2 linked regions of the Homo sapiens genome follow. The protein of the gene in region 1 interacts with the protein of each later gene in a pairwise test. Each region holds a gene or a part of one and is shown in the gene's direction. Other genes may lie near its edges. The genes, in order: MFSD6 and TMPRSS2.

Region 1 (3,819 bases):
CTCGGCCTCCCAAAGTGCTGGGATTACAGGCGTGAGCCACTGCGCCCAGCCACTCAAAAGAATTTAAATCAAAGACTCAGATACTTGCATACCAGGTTGATAGCAGCATTAATCAAAGTAGCAGAAGGAAACAACAAATGTCTATTCACAGATGAAAAGATGAACAAAATGAATGGGAGTCACATTCAAGAGACAGGAAGTAGAATGGTGGTTGTCAGGGGATGGGACAAGGGGTGAGTGTAAGTTATGGTTTAAGGGGTACAGAATTTTTGTTGTGGTGGTGAAAAAGTTCTGGAGATGGATGGTGGTGACAGCTGCACAACACTGTGAGTGTACTCAGTGCCACTGAACCGTACATTTAAAAATGTGAAAATGGTAAATTTTTAATGTATGTTTTCCCACAACAAATCTTAAAAATAGGTGCCTAGTTAAATAATTCACATTTCAAAACAGAGTAGCCTAAGAAATGCTAACCAACTAATCCCTCCTGCTCTTCTTCCTCTCCAGGAGTGACACACGCGGCCATCTGGGCAGCATGCATTTCTTACCTCAGTGCAGCCGTTCCCCCTGAGCTGAGGACATCTGCTCAGGGCATCCTGCAGGGCCTTCACCTGGGTTTGGGAAGAGGATGTGGTGCCATGATCGGAGGCGTGTTAGTCAATTATTTTGGTAAGAATGGCTTTCTCCTTTTTTTTCTTTTCTATTATTAAAACATGATTTTTTCCAGCAATACCTCAATAAACAATCCAATTATTACTGAAGATTGCCCAAAGCTAAATTCCAGTATTCATAATCTCTTTCTAGATTTCATGGTAGTCATAATTGTAAAGCAGTGTGCTTACGTTGTTAAGCTGATCTGAGCCAGCCTGTAACTGTGCACACTCCTCTGACAATCAGCTTAATGAGATGCTACAGAGATCCCTCAAAGGAGCCAAACAAATGAATTAGCATGAGTGCTTTTGGTCTAAAATAAGGTACCTTAAACCTGCTGATAATAACCCTAAAGGAAATAAAATTCATCATTGTTATTCCATTAGGAGATTTTGAACCAGAAGAATCTAACCATATGCTGGCTTTGGTAATGCTACTACATTTATGGTAACAATATCTGTCTGTCTTGTCATATCTTCCTTATTAGAAACATAGGAGCTGAAATAGGAATGAGATTATTCTGCTCCAGGAATCTTAACTACTCAGTCATCTATTAATATATAAGGTGGGCCCCAGGAAATGCGTGCATTTATAGCACTATTTGAGCACTGCTGTTCCAACTACAGATTAATAGTGCTGTTAGTTAATAATTGGGTAAATGGTCTTTTCATATGAAGAGGAGAGCACCATTGAATTGTATGAGTCATGGTGAAAGGCACTGAGAGATAATCCTATATAAATGCAGTTTTATAATCGATCAATGACAGATCCAATATCAGCCCTGGGTCTCTTGACACGTACCCAGCCCTGTGTTTTTCCATTATGTGGAGCTAATACCCAACTACTTTTCTCTGGTTTGTCTCAAGCTGTGCTTCCTTTGCTTTGATCTTTAGAAAACTGATGGTTTTAGATGAGCGCTATCTGCATTTCTTGGAATTACTCTATAGAGTGCTGTTTGTTTTTATAGGGGCTGCTGCAACCTTCCGAGGAATTGGCATGGCCTGCTTGGTGATCCTACTGCTCTTTGCCCTGATCCAGTGGCTGGCAGTGCCAGATGAGGAAGAAGGTAATTATTTCCATTCTTTCTTAATATTCCTAACAGTTCAGGCCATGGGAAGTCAACAAATGCCCCGAGAAGCCTAGAAGTGGTACAGAGTATACAACAGGTCTGTTTGGCTCAATTTTCTGAGTGGCGTATCGATGAATTCATGTGGACTATTGTTAAAGAGATCCACCTACTATGCAGAAAAAATATTGTTTTAAGTAGCTTGGGGTTTTCTTGTTTTTTGTTTGTTTGTTTTCTTTTATAATACAAGGTACTAGGGAAGTATTAGTTTTCAATTTCTCTGGTATTCTAAAGGTTTTTCAAATTTAAGTCAAATACATATAAGGCTATACAGTCATTTTGCTACTAGGGATAGGGAGTGAGTGGTAATCTTCTCTATGACTTACCTTCATTTGTTAAAAAAAAAAAAAACAATGGCCGGGTGCAGTGGCTCACGCCTGTAATCCCAACACTTTGGGAGGCCGAGGCGGGTGGATCACGAGGTTAGGAGATCAAGACCATCTTGGCTAACACGGTGAAACCCCATCTCTACTAAAAATATAAAAAATTAGCCGGGCACGGTGGTGGGCGCCTGTAATCCCAGCTACTCAGGAGGCTGAGGCAGGAGAATGGCGTGAACCCAGGAGGTGGAGCTTGCAGTGAGCCGAGATAGCACCACTGCAGTCCAGCCTGGGGGAACGAGCAAGACTCCCTCTCAAAAAAAAAACAAAAAACAAAGACAAAAATGTCAAGACCTGAAATCTGAAGTTTTCTCTGAACCAGGGATGCCTTTATTAAGATTGTTCTACCAAAAGGAGGTTATATCAAATATTAATATGTAGATGAGAATGAGCTGACTCAACTTTTTATGAAAAAGGTCAACCAGGAGGATGAAAATATTTTTGCTCAGTTTTTTGGTCCCAGAACAGAGCTCATCTTCTTTGGGTGTCCTATCCTTTGCGGAGCATTAGCCTCAGGCCCCTGAAATGCTTCTGTGAAGAGAAAAACTTGCTTGTTACAGAAGCCTCAGAGACAGATTTTAATCTCAATGAGTTACTCAGAAAGAGCAATACTGTTTTTTCTTACTTTTGTTCTTTTATAATCCTAAATGGATTCTCTCTCTTACACAGCCTCAGTCCATGCCTCATGTAAAAGACCAATAAAAATAACTATCATGGCTCTCCCAAAGTTATAAGATGTAGTTAAAGTTGTATTTTGAGAAAAATGTATGGACTTGAATATCTTTGCTATTAATCACAAAAAAATTTAAAATCATTAATTAAACATTCAATGTAAGAAACATAAAAATAAGCAATCAAATTTTAACTCATCTTTGATTAGTGAGAATATGGTACTGGGTTAGTTTTTAAAATACTTGTGTTCTGGAGAGACTGTTATTGGGAAAATGGCAAGATAGGAGGCAGGATTAGGTTGCAGCTCACACTCAGGTGGACCGAGTAGCATGTGGAGACTTGCATCATGCTTTTGCTCCAGAACTACTGCAGGAATATACCAGGAAAGCTGAGAGAATACACAGACCCTCTGAAGGAAGCATATTGCTCCTGGAGGACCTGAGAGACAGGCCAAATATTGGGCTGGTATCCAGCTGAGAGACCTAAAGATGGTTCACATCACAGGACTCTATGCAGACAACCCCAGTACCAGCCTGGAGCCTGGTAGCCCTGCTGGGTGGGCTAGATCCAGAAGAGAAATGACAATCACTACAGCCTGGCTGTCAGGAAGCCACATCCCTCAGAAAACAGGGAGAGTACTACATCAAGGGAACACCCTGTGGGACAAAAGAATTGAACAGCAGCCTTGAGTGCCAGCCCTTCCCTCTGCCATAGCCTACCCAAATGAGAAGGAACCAGAACAACAATTCTAGTAATATGACAAAACAAGGTTCTTTAACCTGCCCCAACAAAATCACACTAGCACCAGCAATAGATCCAAACCAAGAAGAAATCTCTGACTTCCCTGAAAAAGAATTCAGAAGGTCCATTATTAAGTTAATCAAGGAGGCACTAGAGAAAGGTGAAGTCCAATTTAAGGAAATCAAAAAAATGATACAAGAAGTGAGGGGAGAAATCTTCAATGAGATAGATAGCATAAATAAGAAACAG
Region 2 (3,819 bases), on another chromosome or scaffold:
CTCTGAGAATGGGGCCCAGGCATCTTATTTATTTATTTATTTTTCTAAGCCCTCTTGAAAATTCTGGGTTTGGGGAGCACTGATCAGATCTAAGCCTTGGACATTGAGGTAGAAAGGAAAGGTGAATGGTCAATGGAGTGCTTGTTCAGTTTTGGTTGCTGAAGACTTGGAAAGTGGCCTTGCTAGTGGGGAGAGTGAGGGCAGGGAGAGCTCCCTGTGGGGAACCAGAGAGCCCAGGAGCATTGAAGGCCCAGGTGCATTTCTGCTCTCTGGTCCCTCCTGCTCTGCACTCCCTGAGTGTCCCTCATCCCACAGTCACCAGGCCTTTGCTACTCTTCCCCGCCCCTCCTTACTTTCCAGGACACCTGCCAGGGGATCCTCCAATATGGGATGCACTGCGTGGCCTCAGGATTGGGGTGCAGGAGCATTATGTACCTGAGAGCTGAGGCCTGTATGGAGTCAGCCTTTGTGGGGCCCCTCCTGGCCCTAAGGGTGATTTGGGAAGCCCTGACTTGCAAGCACCAGGGGTATGGGCCTGGGTGTGAAGAAGGGGGCTTATGATGTCCCCATGGCCATTGACCACCTTGGCCCCACCGAGCCTGTGGACACCCAAGGAGGAGCAAAAGGGGGATCTGTGACAGGGTAGCAGCTTGGTTGAGCACACAGGCAGCTCTTCAGCATGACCTAGAACAGAGGCTGGGCTCCAGGAGGAGGCAGAGCCTGATCTGGGACTTGGTTATTCCTGGTTGCTGAGCAATGGTCAGGAGAGAGGAACTGAATGAGTGGAAATGCGCTGGTTGGGAGTCGAGGCTGGTTTTCTGGCAGGGGTGTGGGTGGTTACTTTTGTTGTAAACAGAGTGAAGTTTGAGAGGGCAGGAAACTCGAAGACAGGCTTTTCATCCTCCTGGAGGTGAGTCTGGGAGAGGGAGGTGAGGGCTCTGACATCTATGTGTGGATGGCGCTGAGCCATTGGGCATCCATGGCAGGAGGGCAGGAGGAGTTTAGGGCACAGAGTTGTGGTAAGAAAGCAGGAAGTGTTTGAAGGGCACCTTGGCTTGTGGTTGTGGCAGCAGAAGTCTGGAAGTTCACTCAAGGGCAGACTAGGTGGAAAAATCGGGGCTGTCAAGTGGGACTCAGAATGAGAGGTTGTGACAATTGGATTTGTTAGAAAAATATTTTCAAGCGAGGTCTGACTTGGCAGATGGAACTAAGCTGAGGCTTTTTATTATTGCTTGTTTGTACGAGGTGCACAATGCAGTGTCAAATTCCCTTTAAGGCCATTGCTTTCCAAGGGGCTGTCCTGGCGGGGCACTCAGCCTGACCCCACTGCAGTATAGCCCAGGGGTCATGGGAGACCATGCTTTCTAGGGACGATGGGCTTGGAGTTCTTTGTGCAAGATACTGATAACAGAGAATTTGCTGACATTTTCAAGTTCACTGGTGATGATGCATTTATAAGGAGTTGGGAGTAATATGAAAGATCACTATGTCTGGTCTTGATGCTCAAGCCTAATTCTGTTCTGGAATATGTTGGAGAAATGATCCTCCAGTCTTGAAACATACATTTTTAGGTTTGAGGAATTCGGTACATTCTAAGGTAGCTCCAGGCCATATGTGAACTTTCTAATTGTTGGAACCTTGATTTCCCCAGATAGAATCCAAGCCTGCTCTTCTGGAAATTCTGATCATGATTCTGGTATTGTCCTTTGGATGTATGCAGAATAAACTGAATTCCTTTTCCACATAGCCGGCTCTTACGTGTTGGAAGATAAACCTTATCTGCCATCATTATGTTATTATTGAGTGCTCACCATGGGTTGGGCACTGAGCTACGGCCTTGCTTTCTCACTTAATCCCTGCAACAACCCTATTTCTGTATCATCCCCATTTTACAGATTGACTTGGACAAGTTCTTTAAGCCTCAGCCAGTGGCTTGTGTGTGGTGTTGAAGTCTCCGCCTGGAGTGACCTGAGGGCCTCTGCCGCCTGCCTGCCTGTCATGCCAGGTTGCACTCAGCTTGAGGCACCTGGACTCCTGGGAGGTCACCCACTGTCCTGACTTGGGCTGCTGGTGTTGTCTGGGTGTGGGCATCTTATCGCCCTCTGCTAAATTTCATCTTACTCATTTGGCCTTTGGAACTCAAAAAATATATATTTTTTCCTGCAAATTGCATTGTATTTCAAATTTACATTTCCGATCGTCTGTTGTTGGTATATAAAAACACATAGATTTTTATATTGATCTTGTATCCCTCAACTTTGCCAAACATGCTTATTAATTTTTCCCCAATAGTTTTTGGGGTACAGGTGGTAAGAACTCCATAAAAACATTTAAATACTGTCTTTGTAAGCTACAAAGTGAGATTTAAAAAACAAACAGAAAGAGAGAGAACCAGACCTGATATCTGCCCTAAAAAGTTTGTAATCTCTTTGGGACAATGAGTCATTCACAGGAAAAGAAACTTGGATGATGCAGGCAATACCTCTCCTAAGGTGATCTTTCTGTTTCTCGCTCAACCTTTCTCTCTCAGTAGAACTCTTGTGCCAATCATTGTGTATGCAATTTACCTGATTATACATAAACAAGTTTCTGCTGAACAGCCACTGAAATCCACTGTTGGCTAACTCATTTAGTCATGCATTCTATCCTTAGGAGGATAGAACATCTCGTTGTATAATGTGATATTAGTGCGGTTATTTTGGCATAAAGGGCTCTTTTTGATGATTTGGTCATTGGCTGGGATGTGTCCGTGGATGGTGGTGGTGGTGCTGTCTGGATTTTGAAGAAGGGGCACTGAGTCTGAGGCTGTCTGTTCCCTCTCACACCTCCAGCAACTCGAACCGTACCAGTCACAGGTGGGGGCTTCGAGAAGGAGAAGGTGTGTGCACAATGGTGCACGGTGAGGTCAGTGGAGACTTCATTGCAGAGAATACCCCTGGATCTTGGGTGGGAGTCAGTGTCTACAAGCCTAACTTCATTCGCGTTGGCTTGGTTGTTTGGAAAGTAAGTCTCCAGTAAACGTGTCCTGAGATCTCCAGAGGAGAGAAACTAGGAGAAAAGATTCTTGTTTTGGCAGTAACTTCATCATGTCATGGGATGCGGATACGATGCCACAGCATCGTCCTGCTGCATGGTGGCCAGGCAGGTGACTCATGGGCTGACTCAGCTCTCAGTCCAGGATGGACCAAAACAGTGCGAGGACAGCTGTGTGCCATTGTGAGATTCAAGTGGGTGACACTGTCTGTATTGAAGGAAGAGCTCCCTGCCAGCCAGGAATGGAGCCTGAGTGCCACCCACTGTTGCTCTTTCACACTTAAAGGAAAATTTCCCCAAGTGCTCATGGTGGCTGGCTTTCCAGAATTGAGAGCCATCATCCCGGTCCTTTAAATGACAGGAGCAAGCATTCGCTAAACAGCATTGTCTCTCGCCATCTACTTTACGTCTTGCTCCTTTCAGAAATGAGTTAATGCGATGTACAAGCTTGTGTGAATGAGGAAATGCCTGTTTTGAAGATGAACAGGACTGAATGTGATTTCCTGGTCTTTTCGGGACAGCAGTGCTTCCCCTTGCAGATCTAATGTCAGAGCGGGACATTCCCCCCCTTGTTTTATTTTCAATTGGAGAATGTTGTTGTTGTTTCTTTTTTTTTTTTTTTTTTTTTTTTTTTTGAGACAGAGTCTCTCTCTGTCACCCAGGCTGGAGTGCAGTGGCCTAATCTTGGCTGACTGCAACCTCTGCCTCCCAGGTTCAAGTGATTCTCCTGCCTCAGCCTCCCAAGTAGCTGGGATTACAGGCACCCACCATCATACCCAGCTAATT

Evidence for each region.
Region 2: the proteins of MFSD6 (region 1) and TMPRSS2 interact in binary tests that used the Homo sapiens proteins (3 or more experiments, as listed by UniProt).

What each region holds. Positions count from the first base shown.
Region 1 is NC_000002.12:190,488,150-190,491,968, forward strand, and holds part of MFSD6 (major facilitator superfamily domain-containing protein 6), read left to right. Parts: intron 1-507; coding exon 508-669; intron 670-1,618; coding exon 1,619-1,717; intron 1,718-2,464; exon of another isoform or gene 2,465-2,669; coding exon of another isoform or gene 2,670-2,688; intron 2,689-3,819.
Region 2 is NC_000021.9:41,501,458-41,505,276, reverse strand, and holds part of TMPRSS2 (transmembrane protease serine 2), read left to right. Parts: intron 1-3,819. UniProt on the Homo sapiens protein: Plasma membrane-anchored serine protease that cleaves at arginine residues. Participates in proteolytic cascades of relevance for the normal physiologic function of the prostate.